Linked DNA regions of Homo sapiens. The protein of the gene in region 4 purifies or fractionates together with the protein of the main gene of each other region. This does not show direct contact. Each region holds a gene or a part of one and is shown on either strand. Other genes may lie near its edges.

The links.
Region 1: the proteins of TAPBP (region 4) and ADCY9 purify together in Homo sapiens (co-immunoprecipitation; one large-scale study listed by IntAct). This does not show direct contact.
Region 2: the proteins of TAPBP (region 4) and ADGRG5 purify together in Homo sapiens (co-immunoprecipitation; one large-scale study listed by IntAct). This does not show direct contact.
Region 3: the proteins of TAPBP (region 4) and COPB1 purify together in Homo sapiens (affinity purification with western blotting, with the first as the bait; one study listed by BioGRID). This does not show direct contact.

What each region holds. Positions count from the first base shown.
Region 1 is NC_000016.10:3,966,443-3,969,942, forward strand, and holds part of ADCY9 (adenylate cyclase type 9), read right to left. Parts: intron 525-3,500; coding exon 1-524. UniProt on the Homo sapiens protein: Adenylyl cyclase that catalyzes the formation of the signaling molecule cAMP in response to activation of G protein-coupled receptors.
Region 2 is NC_000016.10:57,563,143-57,566,642, forward strand, and holds part of ADGRG5 (adhesion G-protein coupled receptor G5 isoform 1 precursor), read left to right. Parts: coding exon 1-105; intron 106-705; coding exon 706-837; intron 838-1,891; coding exon 1,892-2,008; intron 2,009-2,146; exon of another isoform or gene 2,147-3,456; coding exon 3,457-3,500. UniProt on the Homo sapiens protein: Orphan adhesion G-protein coupled receptor (aGPCR). Ligand binding causes a conformation change that triggers signaling via guanine nucleotide-binding proteins (G proteins) and modulates the activity of downstream effectors, such as adenylate cyclase.
Region 3 is NC_000011.10:14,459,412-14,461,811, reverse strand, and holds part of COPB1 (coatomer subunit beta), read left to right. Parts: intron 1-480; coding exon 481-626; intron 627-1,514; coding exon 1,515-1,604; intron 1,605-2,400. UniProt on the Homo sapiens protein: The coatomer is a cytosolic protein complex that binds to dilysine motifs and reversibly associates with Golgi non-clathrin-coated vesicles, which further mediate biosynthetic protein transport from the ER, via the Golgi up to the trans Golgi network.
Region 4 is NC_000006.12:33,301,637-33,304,078, forward strand, and holds part of TAPBP (tapasin isoform 1 precursor), read right to left. Parts: intron 2,354-2,442; coding exon 2,319-2,353; coding exon of another isoform or gene 2,139-2,318; exon of another isoform or gene 1,970-2,138; intron 136-1,969; coding exon 124-135; coding exon of another isoform or gene 56-123; 3' UTR 1-55. UniProt on the Homo sapiens protein: Involved in the association of MHC class I with transporter associated with antigen processing (TAP) and in the assembly of MHC class I with peptide (peptide loading).

The sequences.
Region 1 (3,500 bases), on a different chromosome or scaffold from region 4:
GCGGGTGGCTGCCGTCCTGGGCCTGCGCGGTGTTCAGCCCTGACGCCGCCATGTACGTGGCTCCGATGGTCTTGATCTTCTCGATGCTGCTGTAGTCCGGCTTGCTTAGGAGCTCGTCAAAGTCCCCGATGAGCTCGTTGAGGACCCGGTAGCACTCCTTGCCGCCCTCGTAGTTCTCCTCGTAGAACTCGCTGAAGTTGACGATGCTGGCGAAGATCACCCCTCCGCTGTCATGGTTCTTGGAGTAGGTCTGGGACACCTTCAGCTGCTCAGCCACGTGGTAGGGGATGATGTTCCTCAGCAGCCAGTCTGCCTGGTCCCGCATGCTCTGGATCTTGGTGCGGTGAAGATCCGCTTCCACGTCTCCGTGGTAGTGGAGGCGGTAGCTGACTTCAAATTCGCGATTCAGGAACCAGACCAACAAGAGCAGGAGAAAGAAGACGAGAACCACCTCCTGGCCGATGAGGCTGGCGGGCCGCCGGAGGTCACGCGGCACCGAACTATTGCACGGGTTCCTCTCGGAACTGGAGAGCAAAGACACGGGAAAGGGAGAGGTTACTGCTCGGCGCTTCCAAGCTCAGAACAGCCCCGCTAGCTACGCAAAGCTTTGTTGAGTCCAGGCCTTCAACAACCTGAAGCTGTCAAGCTGCCCATTCCTGGTTTGGGCTGGCTGAAGGTATGGAGGGATAAAGACTAACTTTTGAAACTGATTGATTTCATTTTGTTAAATAGAGGTGGGGTCTCACTGTGTTGCCCAGGCTGGTCTTGCACTCCTGGGCTCAAGCAATTTTCCTGCCTTGGCCTCCCAAAGTGCTGGAATTACAGGCGTGAGCTGCTGTGCCCAGCCCTGTAACTAACATCTTTAGTAAGTGCTTGGTAATCGTTTTTCTTTTCTTTTTCTTTTTCTTTTTTTTTAGAAGTCTTTAGCTTCTTTCAAAAATCTTTTCTTTTCTCTCTCTCCTTTGTTTTTTTAGAGACATGGTTGTTGTCCAGGCTGGAGTGCAATGGCACAATCATGGCTCACTGCAGCCTTAAACTCCTGGGCTCAAACGATCCTCCTGCCCAGCCTCCTAAGTAGCTGGGATTACACGCATGTACCACCACACCTAGCTAATTAAAAAATTTTTTTTTTGAAGAGACAGGGTCTTGCTGGTTGCCAAGGCTGGTCTTAAACTCGTAACTTCAAGCCATCCTCCCACCTTGGCCTTCCAAAGTGCTGGGATTACAGGCTTGAACTGTGCTTGGCCTAACATCTTTTTTTTTTTTTTTTTTTAAGATTGAGTCTTGCTCTGTTGCCCAGGCTAGAGTGCAGTGGTGCGATCTTGGCTCACTGCACCCTCTGCTTCCTGAGTTCAAGTGATCCTCCTGCCTCAGCCTCCTGAATAGCTGGGACTATAGGTGTGTGCCACCATGCCTGGCTAATTTTTGTATTTTTAGTAGAGACAGGGTTTCATCATGTTGGCCAGGCTGGTCTCAAACTCCTGATCTCAAAGTGATCAGCTTGCCTTAAAGTGCTGGGATTACAGGTGTGAGCCACTGCACCCGGCTTTTTGCTGAATGAACTTTTTGAAAGTAAGTTGCTGACATGGCACTTCAGCTCTAAATATTTCAGCATGTATCTCCTAAGAATAAGGATATTTCCCTATGTAACTACAATATCATCATCATACCCAAGAAATTTAACATTCTCTGATATATTTGGTTCTTAGATTTCTTTTTTTTTGAGACGGAGTTTTGCTCTTGTTGCTGGTGAGATCTTGGCTCACTACAACCTCCGCCTCCCGGGTTCAAGTGATTCTCCTGCCTCAGCCTCCCCAGTAGCTGGGTTCACAGACATGTGCCACCACACCCAGCTAATTTTGTATTTTTAGTAGAGACGGGGTTTCTCCATGTTGGTCAGGCTTGTCTCAAACTCCCGACCTCAGGTGATCCGCCCACCTCAGCCTCCCAAAGTGCTGGGATTACAGGTGTGAGCCACCGCGCCTGGCCTTGGTTCTTAGATTTCTAATCCAATAAACTTATCATTTTACAAATAGCTTTTATGAGTTCTATACTCTCTACCTGTATAAAAAAGTTTGACAAGACGCCATCTCCCCTGATTCTGGGTTAGTTCTTTTTGCCGAAATCACTCAGGACAATGCTAACATCTGAACCAGTGCCATTATTTTCTCATGGCTGTGCAGTGTTCCAGCACTCGGAAATTCTGTAATTTAGCCAGATTCCCCCTGATGGAACTGGGCCCGAGTCTGTCTTTTCTTACCACAAACAGTGTCACAGGGAATATTCCCCTACCCCTATCTTTGTGCGTATGGAAGTGCTGAGTCATTTTAAATATTGCACATTTAGAATTTCCTTAGAAATTTCCAAATTGCCCTTCTAAACAAGGCTGAACCAGTTTCTGCTTTTTTTTTTCTTTTTTTTGAGAAGGAGTCTCGCTTTGTTGCCCAGGTTAAAGTGCAGTGGCGTGATCTCGCCTCACCACAAACTCCGCCTCCTGGGTTCAAGCAATTCTCCTGCTTCAGCCTTCTGTGTAGCTCGGACTACAGGTGCACGCCACCATGCCCAGATTATTTTTGTACTTTTACTAGAGACAGGTTGGTCTCAAACTCGTGACCTCGTGATCCACCCGCCTCGGCCTCCCAAAGTGCTGGGATCACAGGCGTGAGCCACCGCGCCCAGTCTCTGCTCCCTTTGATAACTGAGCCTGCTTTCAGCGGGGCTGTCTCCACTTCAGTGGCACTGATGGAGACAGCCATGGTCAGGGGGCTGCAGATGAGTGGTGAGTAGCACAATTTCTTTTTTTCTTTTTCTTTTTTCTTTTTTGAGACAGAGTCTCACTCTCTAGCCCGGGCTGGCATGCAGTGGTGTGATCTCAGCTCACTGCAACCTCCACCTCCTGGGCTCAACGATTCTTGCGGCCCAGCCTCCTGAGTAGTGTGCGCCACCAGGCCCAGCTAATTTTTGTATTTTTTTTTTGGTAGAAACGGGGTTTCACCATGTTGGCTGGGCTGGTCTCAAACTCCTGACCTAAAGTGATCTGCCCGCCTCGACCTCCCAAAGTGCTGGGATTACAGGTGTGAGCCACCACACCTGGCTGAGTAGCACAATTTCTTAAAGTTTGTTTGAAATATATATATATATATATATATATATATATATATATATATGTATTTTTTTTTTTTTTTAAGAAGAGACAGGGTCTGTCTCTGTCATCCAAGCTGGACTGCAGTGGTGCGATCCTAGCTCACTGCAGCTTTGACCTCCCAGGCTAAAGCGATCCTCCCGCCTCAGCCTCCAGATTAGCTGGGACTACAGGCACACACCACCACACCTGGCTAATTTTTTGAACTTTTTGTAGAGATGAGGTCTTACTATGTTGCCCAGGCTGGTCTCAAACTCCTGGGTTCAAACTGTTCTGCTTCTGCCTCCCCAGTGTGCTGGAATACATTTTTTCCCATTTAAAAATACTACATACTCATCATAGAAAATGTAGAAAAAAA
Region 2 (3,500 bases), on a different chromosome or scaffold from region 4:
AACCTGACCTTGCAGACACCCACCATCCAGTCTCTGGCCTTCAAGCTGAGCTGTGACTTCTCTGGCCTCTCGCTGACCAGTGCCACTCTGAAGCGGGTGCCCCAGGTCAGAGGCTGCGGGTTGGGGGGTGTGGCCAGCTGCCCCGCCCTAGAAGTCCTCCAGGCATTTAAGGTCTGGACTTTCTTTAGGCTCCACTGTCTTCCTCCCCACACCCCACAGTCCAGGCTCTGCCCTAACTGGCAGTGAGTTGCCTCCTCTGTAAAATGGGGCTCATACTCGCTGTGTGAACTGTGGAAAGGGAGGTGCTTTATTGCCCCTGCAGGGCAGAATCTTCTTCCTGCTTTGGCTGGAGGCTGCCCGCTGCGGGAGGCGCTGTGGGAGAGGCCAGAAACCCTGGCTCCTTTTAGGACCCTGGGGTGATCAGCTGGATCCCTGGCAGGGGCTGGGGCTGGTGCTGGGGCTGGGTGCTGAGGTAGCTCCATCTTCAGGGGTTCAGTGGGTCAGGTAAACATCCAAAACTCAGGAACAGCATGGAGGGAAGGCCTGGGATCTTGGGAAGTTTGGGAGGAGATGCAGCCTGGGGGGAGAAGGTTCTGTGGGTGGAAACCCCAAGGAAGGTTTCACGGGGAGTGGGAGGCAGTGAAGGTGTTGGGGTCAGGTCTCCAGGTCCTGGTTGCCAAACAGCCTGTTTGCGACCCTCTGCAGGCAGGAGGTCAGCATGCCCGGGGTCAGCACGCCATGCAGTTCCCCGCCGAGCTGACCCGGGACGCCTGCAAGACCCGCCCCAGGGAGCTGCGGCTCATCTGTATCTACTTCTCCAACACCCACTTTTTCAAGGTCAGTGTGATGGCGGGCCAAGGAGGGTGGGTGCCGGCCCCTTCTTGGGATCCACTGCAGGTGCCCATGTCACTGCCTGGCCTCTGGGTGACCAGCACTGAGTGAGACCAACCAGCCATCTGTGCAATCCAAGCCAGCAATTGTCCCTCTCTGGGCCTCAGTTTCCCTGCCAACTTTAGCAGAATGGTAGGAAGGTATAATTACAATCTGCAAATAAGACCTAAGAAACCTACGATGTGCCTGTCGGTAGGCGGGAGACAGACAAGAAGGCACTTATTATTCCCTGCCCTCAGATAACTCTCTGTCTTGATGCCTAGACTAAGACCTTACAGATTTTTTTTTTTTTTTTTGGCAGAGTCTCGCTCTGTTGCCCAGGCTGGAGTGCAGTGGCATGATCTCGGCTCACTGCAACCTCTGCCTCCTGGGTTCAAGCAATTCCCCTGCCTCAGCCTCCTGGGATTACAGGCGTGTGCCATCATGCCCAGCTAATTTTCGTATTTTTAGTAGAGACCGGGTTTAACCACGTTGGCCAGGCTGATCTTGAACTCCTGGCCTCAAGTGATCCGCCTGCCTTGGCCTCCCAAAATGCTAGGATTATAGGCGTGAGCCACTGAGCCTGGCCTGATCTTAGAGATTTAATGTCAGCAGAAGGTTGATTATAGCCATAGAGATCCAGAGTGATGGATGAGTCAGGGTGGGGTTGGGGCTCTTCCCAGTGGGCAGTCCAGGGGAGTTTCTGGGGAAGGTGCCTTTCAACCTTGGCTTTGAAAGTGAGTGAGGATAGTGGTGAGGTGGAGGGCGTGAGGCTGGAATGCATTAAACGAATGGGAGGTGGAGCAGGGGGTGGTGAGAGGACAGCTTTCCACAGGGCAGAAACAGCACATGCAAAGGCTGGGAGGCTGGGAAGGCTGGGAGGCTGGGAGGCTGAGAAAGCTTTCACGCTGCACACGTGAAAGTCTTGCTGCTTGTTCTCATCCAGGGAAGCGGAGCTCAGACCTTACCCAGGGCCTCCCCATTTCCCCTCCACTCAGCCCTTCTCCTGCTGCCCTTCCAGGATGAAAACAACTCATCTCTGCTGAATAACTACGTCCTGGGGGCCCAGCTGAGTCATGGGCACGTGAACAACCTCAGGGATCCTGTGAACATCAGCTTCTGGCACAACCAAAGCCTGGTACTGCTGGGGGCGCCCCCGTTTCCACTGCACCCCTGCCCCTCTGTGACTCTCCTGTTGAACACTGGTTTGACTAGACCCAAACCTGTGGAACCATCTTGGAAATCCATCACACTTTGAAAATTCCTGCTCAAGAAATAAGAGAGAGAGAAGTTTTTACTCATGCATTTGTCAGAATTCTTTCAGTTGCAAGTAAGAAAAGACCACTTCAAGCCAGCTTGAGCACAGAGGGAACTGATTGGCACACATCCATGAAATGTCTAGAGGTGATCCACCAGCTTCAGACATAGCTGGATCCAGGGATGGATCTGATGCCCTTGTGGCTCAGTCTCTCTCCGTCTCAGCAATGGTCTCCTGTCTTGGCTGTCCATTCTGTGGCATGATGGATGCTGGAGAGCCAGACTTCCTTTCCCTCTTCCCATCAGGCTCTTCCCCCGACTCCCCACCCACAACCTGCCCCAGTGCAGATCAGGGTCTCAGGATCTTAAAGGTTCAGCTGGGTCACACATGTCCATCCCTGCACCTGTCACTGTGCCCAGGGGGATGGAATGTGTGGATTGGCCAGGCCTGGGTCACACGGCCCAGGGACTGGGGTGAAGGAGTGAGCTCCTAGGGTAAGTGCAGATGCTGATCCTGGAACAGAGACAGGGCTGCTTGTTGGGGGTGGGGGCAGAGTGGGGTGGTTCACAAGCCTCAGTGCCTCCATTTCTGGTTCCTGGCATTCCTGAAAAGCCCGGAGCCTCTGCTTTCTGGCTTCATCTTCCCTTCAGCTTCACCAGGACTGCCCTGCACTCTAAATTTCACCATCATCCTTTCCTTTCAGCTCTGGGCTTTTGCCACTATGGTTCCCTCCACCTGGAATGCCCTTGCCCTACTCGTGTTGAAATCCAACACGTCCTCTAAGGGTTCAGGGCCCCCACCTCCCCTTCTCCCTTTGGGTCAGCTCTGCCTACCCTCCATGGTCTTCCGTGACTACCTGTGTCATTTCCTCCACTTCTCCACCCACGTGGCTTGGCATTAGGGTTGTCTGTGGATGAGTCTCCCCCAACCAGGCGTGGGTCTGAGCACATTGCTGTTCCCCATGGGGAGGAAGGGAAGGGATCAGCTGGTTATGGAGCGCCTACTGTATAAAAGGCCAGAGCTGGACACTCAAGATTCCGTGTTGCCCTTTGTTTTTCCACCATTGTTGTAACATGGGTACGAATGATCCTATTCTGTAGATGACTAAACTGAGGCTCAGAGCAACTTGGTGTCTTGCCTGGGTCACTCTGAGAGCCCACAGTGGAGGTGGGACAGGAATCTGAGACTGTCTGAAGCCAAAGGCCAGCCAGTGCCTGGTAAAATGTTGGCAAATGTGCAGTTGAGTCACCGTTGGCCCCCAGGACTCCCAGACACTGATCTGCAGCCTTTCCTCTGCACCCTATGACTGACCCAGCATCTCCACCCAGGAAGGCTACACCCTGACCTGTGTCTTCTGGAAGGAGGGAGCCAG
Region 3 (2,400 bases), on a different chromosome or scaffold from region 4:
ATGACTAATCTTGTATCATTAAGTAGTATGGGTCAGCAATATTTATTCAAAAGTATTAGTTAAGTACCTCCTATGGGAACATCGTCCACTTGTATATCTGCTGCAGTGCCTAGTATGCTGCAACTGCTATGTAAGTACTCACTGAATTGAATTATTTGTTTAACCACAAAAAACAAAGTGTGCCTGAGTTCGAATCCTATCCCCACCACTTATCAGTTGTGTGATCTGGAACAACTTACTTAACTTCTCTGCTTTCATTTCCTCATATGTAAGATGGAAAATAATAATACTATCAGAATTGATGGGAGTATTAAACCAGTAATATTTATAAAGCATGTAGAATAGAGCTCTGTACATAATAAGTATTATATAAACAATCTTATTGTTAATAGTGTAGTTCTTTGGATATTTGGATATTAAGATTTTTTAAATTCAAGTTTGCCCCAGTGATTGCGAATCTTTTTGTATATGTAATTGCAGTTTATGATGTCTCTGGAGCAGCAAGTGACAGAAATTGTGTGGTTCTCAGTGATATTCACATCGACATCATGGACTATATCCAGCCTGCAACTTGCACTGATGCAGAATTCCGTCAGATGTGGGCCGAATTTGAATGGGAAAACAAAGTTAGTCCTTGGGAGATTTTCTCATATTCCTTTATCTTTCTTCCTTTTGCCTGCTGTTGAGGAGTCTGCTAATAAAATTAATCTCGCTAAAAAGTGTTTAACATGAAAAGCAAATAGTCTTTCAGTATCTGTTCTTGCAAATTAGCCTTAACTAAAAATCATGTAAGTAGTTTGGTAATTTGCTGTTATAAATTGATTAGAGTAGCAGTTCTATAGCCAATCTGATAGGTTTAGACATTATAGGTAATATTCCATCCCTTCTATGTATGACCAAGAGCTTACCATTTAATCTAGTGCCCGAAAAAGGCTTTACAAAGTTCATGGTCTGTTGAGGAACTTTGTCCCTTTGAGCCTTGACTTTTATTAGAAATATTCTATATGAGGCTGGGCACGGTAGCTCGTGCCTGTAATCCCAGCACTTTGGGAGGCTGAGGCAGGCAGATTGCTCGTGCTCAGGAGTTCTAGACCAGCCTGAGCAAAATGGTGAAACTCCATCTCTACAAAAAATACAAAAATTAGCCCGGTGTGGTAGTCCCAGCTACTCCGGAGACTGAGGTGGGAGGATCACTTGAACATGGGAGGTTGAGGCTGCAGTGAGCTGAAATGACGCACTGCACTCTAGCCTGGGTGACAGAGTGAGACCCTGTCTCAAAAAAAAAAAGAAATATTCTATATGCTTCATATTGAATCTCTGTGAAGTTATCTCTATTGGGAAGTACTGATACCAACCTACAGCTTGTTGGATTTTATAGATGTTATTTAGTTTCTTGGTGTCTACTCTTTCCAACCTAAACAGTTGGAACAAGTTTTTAATATGACATACTGGTGATTCACAGCTTTCTCATAGTAAGATTTATGATCTCCTTGACTTTTTTTTCCTCTCTACAGGTGACAGTTAACACCAACATGGTTGATTTAAATGACTACTTACAGCACATATTAAAGTCAACCAATATGAAATGCCTGACTCCAGAAAAGGTAAAATTTGACTAGGAAATTCAGAAATCTGATGGAATGGTAGAGTAGGTTCCTGGCCTTCCTGTATTTCCTCTAGCACATTTTTGTTATTCAATATGCAGTACCATTCTAGGCTATCTAAAAGATGTTATCCCATAGAATGTTGGAATCTGCTTACCTCTTTCTATTGGACTATACCATCCTACTTTTTCCTAGTGCAGTGACCCAACTGAATAGTCAGATTAATTTTTTTTTTATTTTCTTTTCAATCTTCTCCCCCATTCAGCTAGAGGCACATTCTAAAGTAGTTTATGCTGCACATGGTGGTTCATTCCTGTGATCCTAGCACTTTGAGAGGCTGAGGCGGGCAGATCACTTGAGGTCAGGAGTTTGAGACCAGCCTGGCCAATATGGCGAAACCCCATCTCTACTAAAAATACAAAAATTACCCAGGTGTGGTGGCACGTGCCTGTAATCCCAGCTACTTGGGAGGTTGAGGCAGGAGAATCACCTGAACCCCAGGGGGTGGAGGTTGCAGTGAGCCGAGATCACACCACTGCATTCCAGCGTGGGTGACAGAGTGAAACTCTGTCTCAAAAAGATAAATAAAATCGTTTATTTGTAATACTGGATTAGAAAATGTCCATGAGCTCTTCCGTGGGCTCTGATTGTTGGTTAAAATATATGTGCTCAAATACAGAATCGTTGTTATACTGTGACTTTTTGCTATGTTTGTGTATGTATGAAAAAAACGAGAGAGAAAGAAAAATGAAGCTGGAGCTCTAAGGAACTTTTTTCTTTATGTAAAATTTCTATA
Region 4 (2,442 bases):
AGCCACTCAGTGGAGAGAGATTGGAGGGATTAGGAGCAGATGATAGGGTATTATTTTAGGGAGCTACTACAGAAGCTTGGGCCAGAGATGATGGTGGCTTCCACAGGATGGCAGTGAGTGCCCTCACTCTGCTTTCTGGAAGAGAGGAAGGTGGTGAGGAATTCAGGATATTAAAAGGCAGTTGAGGTGTACATGGTCAGTTTAGAGACATATAAACTATCATGGGCACAGATGATGGGAGAAGGATGAGGCTAATATTTTCTGCCCTCCAGACACTGCTGAGTGCTGTATCTCCTGCATCTTCTTAAGGAGATACACTGTCTTCCTTAATCCTCCTAAAAGTCCTCTCAGGCTCCGCTGTCCAATATGACAGCCACCACCCACATTAGGCTATTGAGCATTTGATATGTGGCTAGTCCGAATTGAGATGTGCTGACTATTTAAAATAAACACCTGTGTTTGAATACTTAAGGTGAGAAAAGGGCTGCAATTTATTTTCTTTTCTTTCTTTTTTTTTTTTTTTTTTTGAGACAGGGTCTCACTTTGTCACCCAGGCTGGAGTACAGTGGGACAACCTTAGCTCATTGCAGCCTCACCCTCCCAGATTCAAGCGATCCTTCTGCCACAGCTCCCCAAGTAGCTGGGACTATAGCTGTGTGCCACCATGCCCAGCTAATTTGTTTTGTTTTGTTTTGTTTTGTTTTTTGAGACAGAGCCTCACTCTGTTGCCCAGGCTGGAGTGCAGTGGTGCGATCTCGGCTCACTGCAACCTCCACCTCCCAGGTTCAAGCAATTCTCCTGCCTCAGCCTCCTGAGTAGCTGAGATTACAGGTGTGCACCACCATGCCCGGCTAATTTTTCTGTATTTTTAGTAGAGACGGGGTTTCACCATGTTGGCCAGGCTGGTCTTGAACTCCTGACCTCAGGTGATCCGCCCTCCTCAGCCTCCCAAAGTGCTAGGATTACAGGCGTGAACCAACGCACCTGGCCAAGACTGTAATTTCTTTTTCTTTTTTTTTTGTTGTTGAGACGAAGTTTTCCTTTTGTCACCCAGGCTGGAGTGCAATGGTGTGATCTCAGCTCACTGCAACCTCTGCCTCCCAGGTTCAAGCGATTCTCCTGCCCCAGTCTCCCGAGTAGCTGGGATTACAGGTGCCGTCACATCTGGCTAATTTTTTGTATTTTTAGTAGAGATGGGGTTTCATCATGTTGGCTAAGCTGGTCTTGAACTCCTGACCTCAGGTGATCCTCCCGCCTCGGCCTCCCAAAGTGCAGGGATTACAGGCATGAGCCATCGCACCCGGCCTGTAATTTCTTATATTGTTTACATGTTGCAATAATATTTTGGATGTACAGGTTGAGCATCGCCGATCCAAAACTCTAAAATCTGAAATGTTCCAAAACCTGAAATTTTTTTAGTGCCAACATGATGCCACAAGTGGAAAATCCCACAGCTGCCCTCATGTGATGGGTCACATATATTATTAAAAATATTGTGGTCGGGTGCAGCGGTTCACACCTGTAATCCCAACGCTTTGGGAGGCCAAGGCAGCGGGCGGATCACCTGAGGTCGGGAGTTCGAGACCAGCCTGACCAACATGGTGAAACCCCGTCTCTACTAAAAATACAAAAATTAGCCAGGCGTGGTGGTGGGTGCCTGTAATCCCAACTACTCGGGAGGCTAAGGCAGGAGAATCGCTTGAACCTGGGAGGTGGAGGTTGCAGTGAGCCGAGATCGCACCATTGCACCCCAGCCTGGGCGACAGAGACTCTGTCTCAAAAAAAAAGAGAAGGAAAAAAATCTTCAGGCCATGTGTATAAGGTGTATAGGAAACATAAATGATTTCTGTGTTTAGATTTGGGTCTGATCCCAAAGATATTAAATATATGCAAATATTCCAAAGTCTGAAAAAATCCAACATCCAAAAACACTTCTGACCCAAGCATTTCAGATAAGGGACCAGAATTATTAGATTAAATAAGGTATATTATTAAGTTAATTTTACCTGTTTCTGCTTATTTTTTTAATGTGAGTACTAGAGTATTTAAATTTACATATGTGGCTTGCATTATCTTTCTATTGGACAGCACTGCCTAAGTAACTTTTTAAAATCCCTACACCCAAGGAAACATATAGATTAAGTAGCATGCTCAAAGAGTCCTACAGTTAGGATATAGTGCCAGGTTTTAACCCAGATCAGTGTGAATTCCAAGCCTAGGTTCTGCCTACCACACCAGCAGCCTCCCTCCATGGGTTTTGAGATAGGATGAGGAGATAAAGTGACAAGGGAAAGATACAGAGAGGTGGAGCACTGTACCTTCTTTGAATCCTTGCAGGTGGACAGGTAGACAGCTGTGGGGAAAGATTGAGAAGGGATGGGATGCTGGAGTGGTAGAGGTGGAGGGCAGAGGGATGGGTGTCAGGCTCTTGGGAGTAGGTGG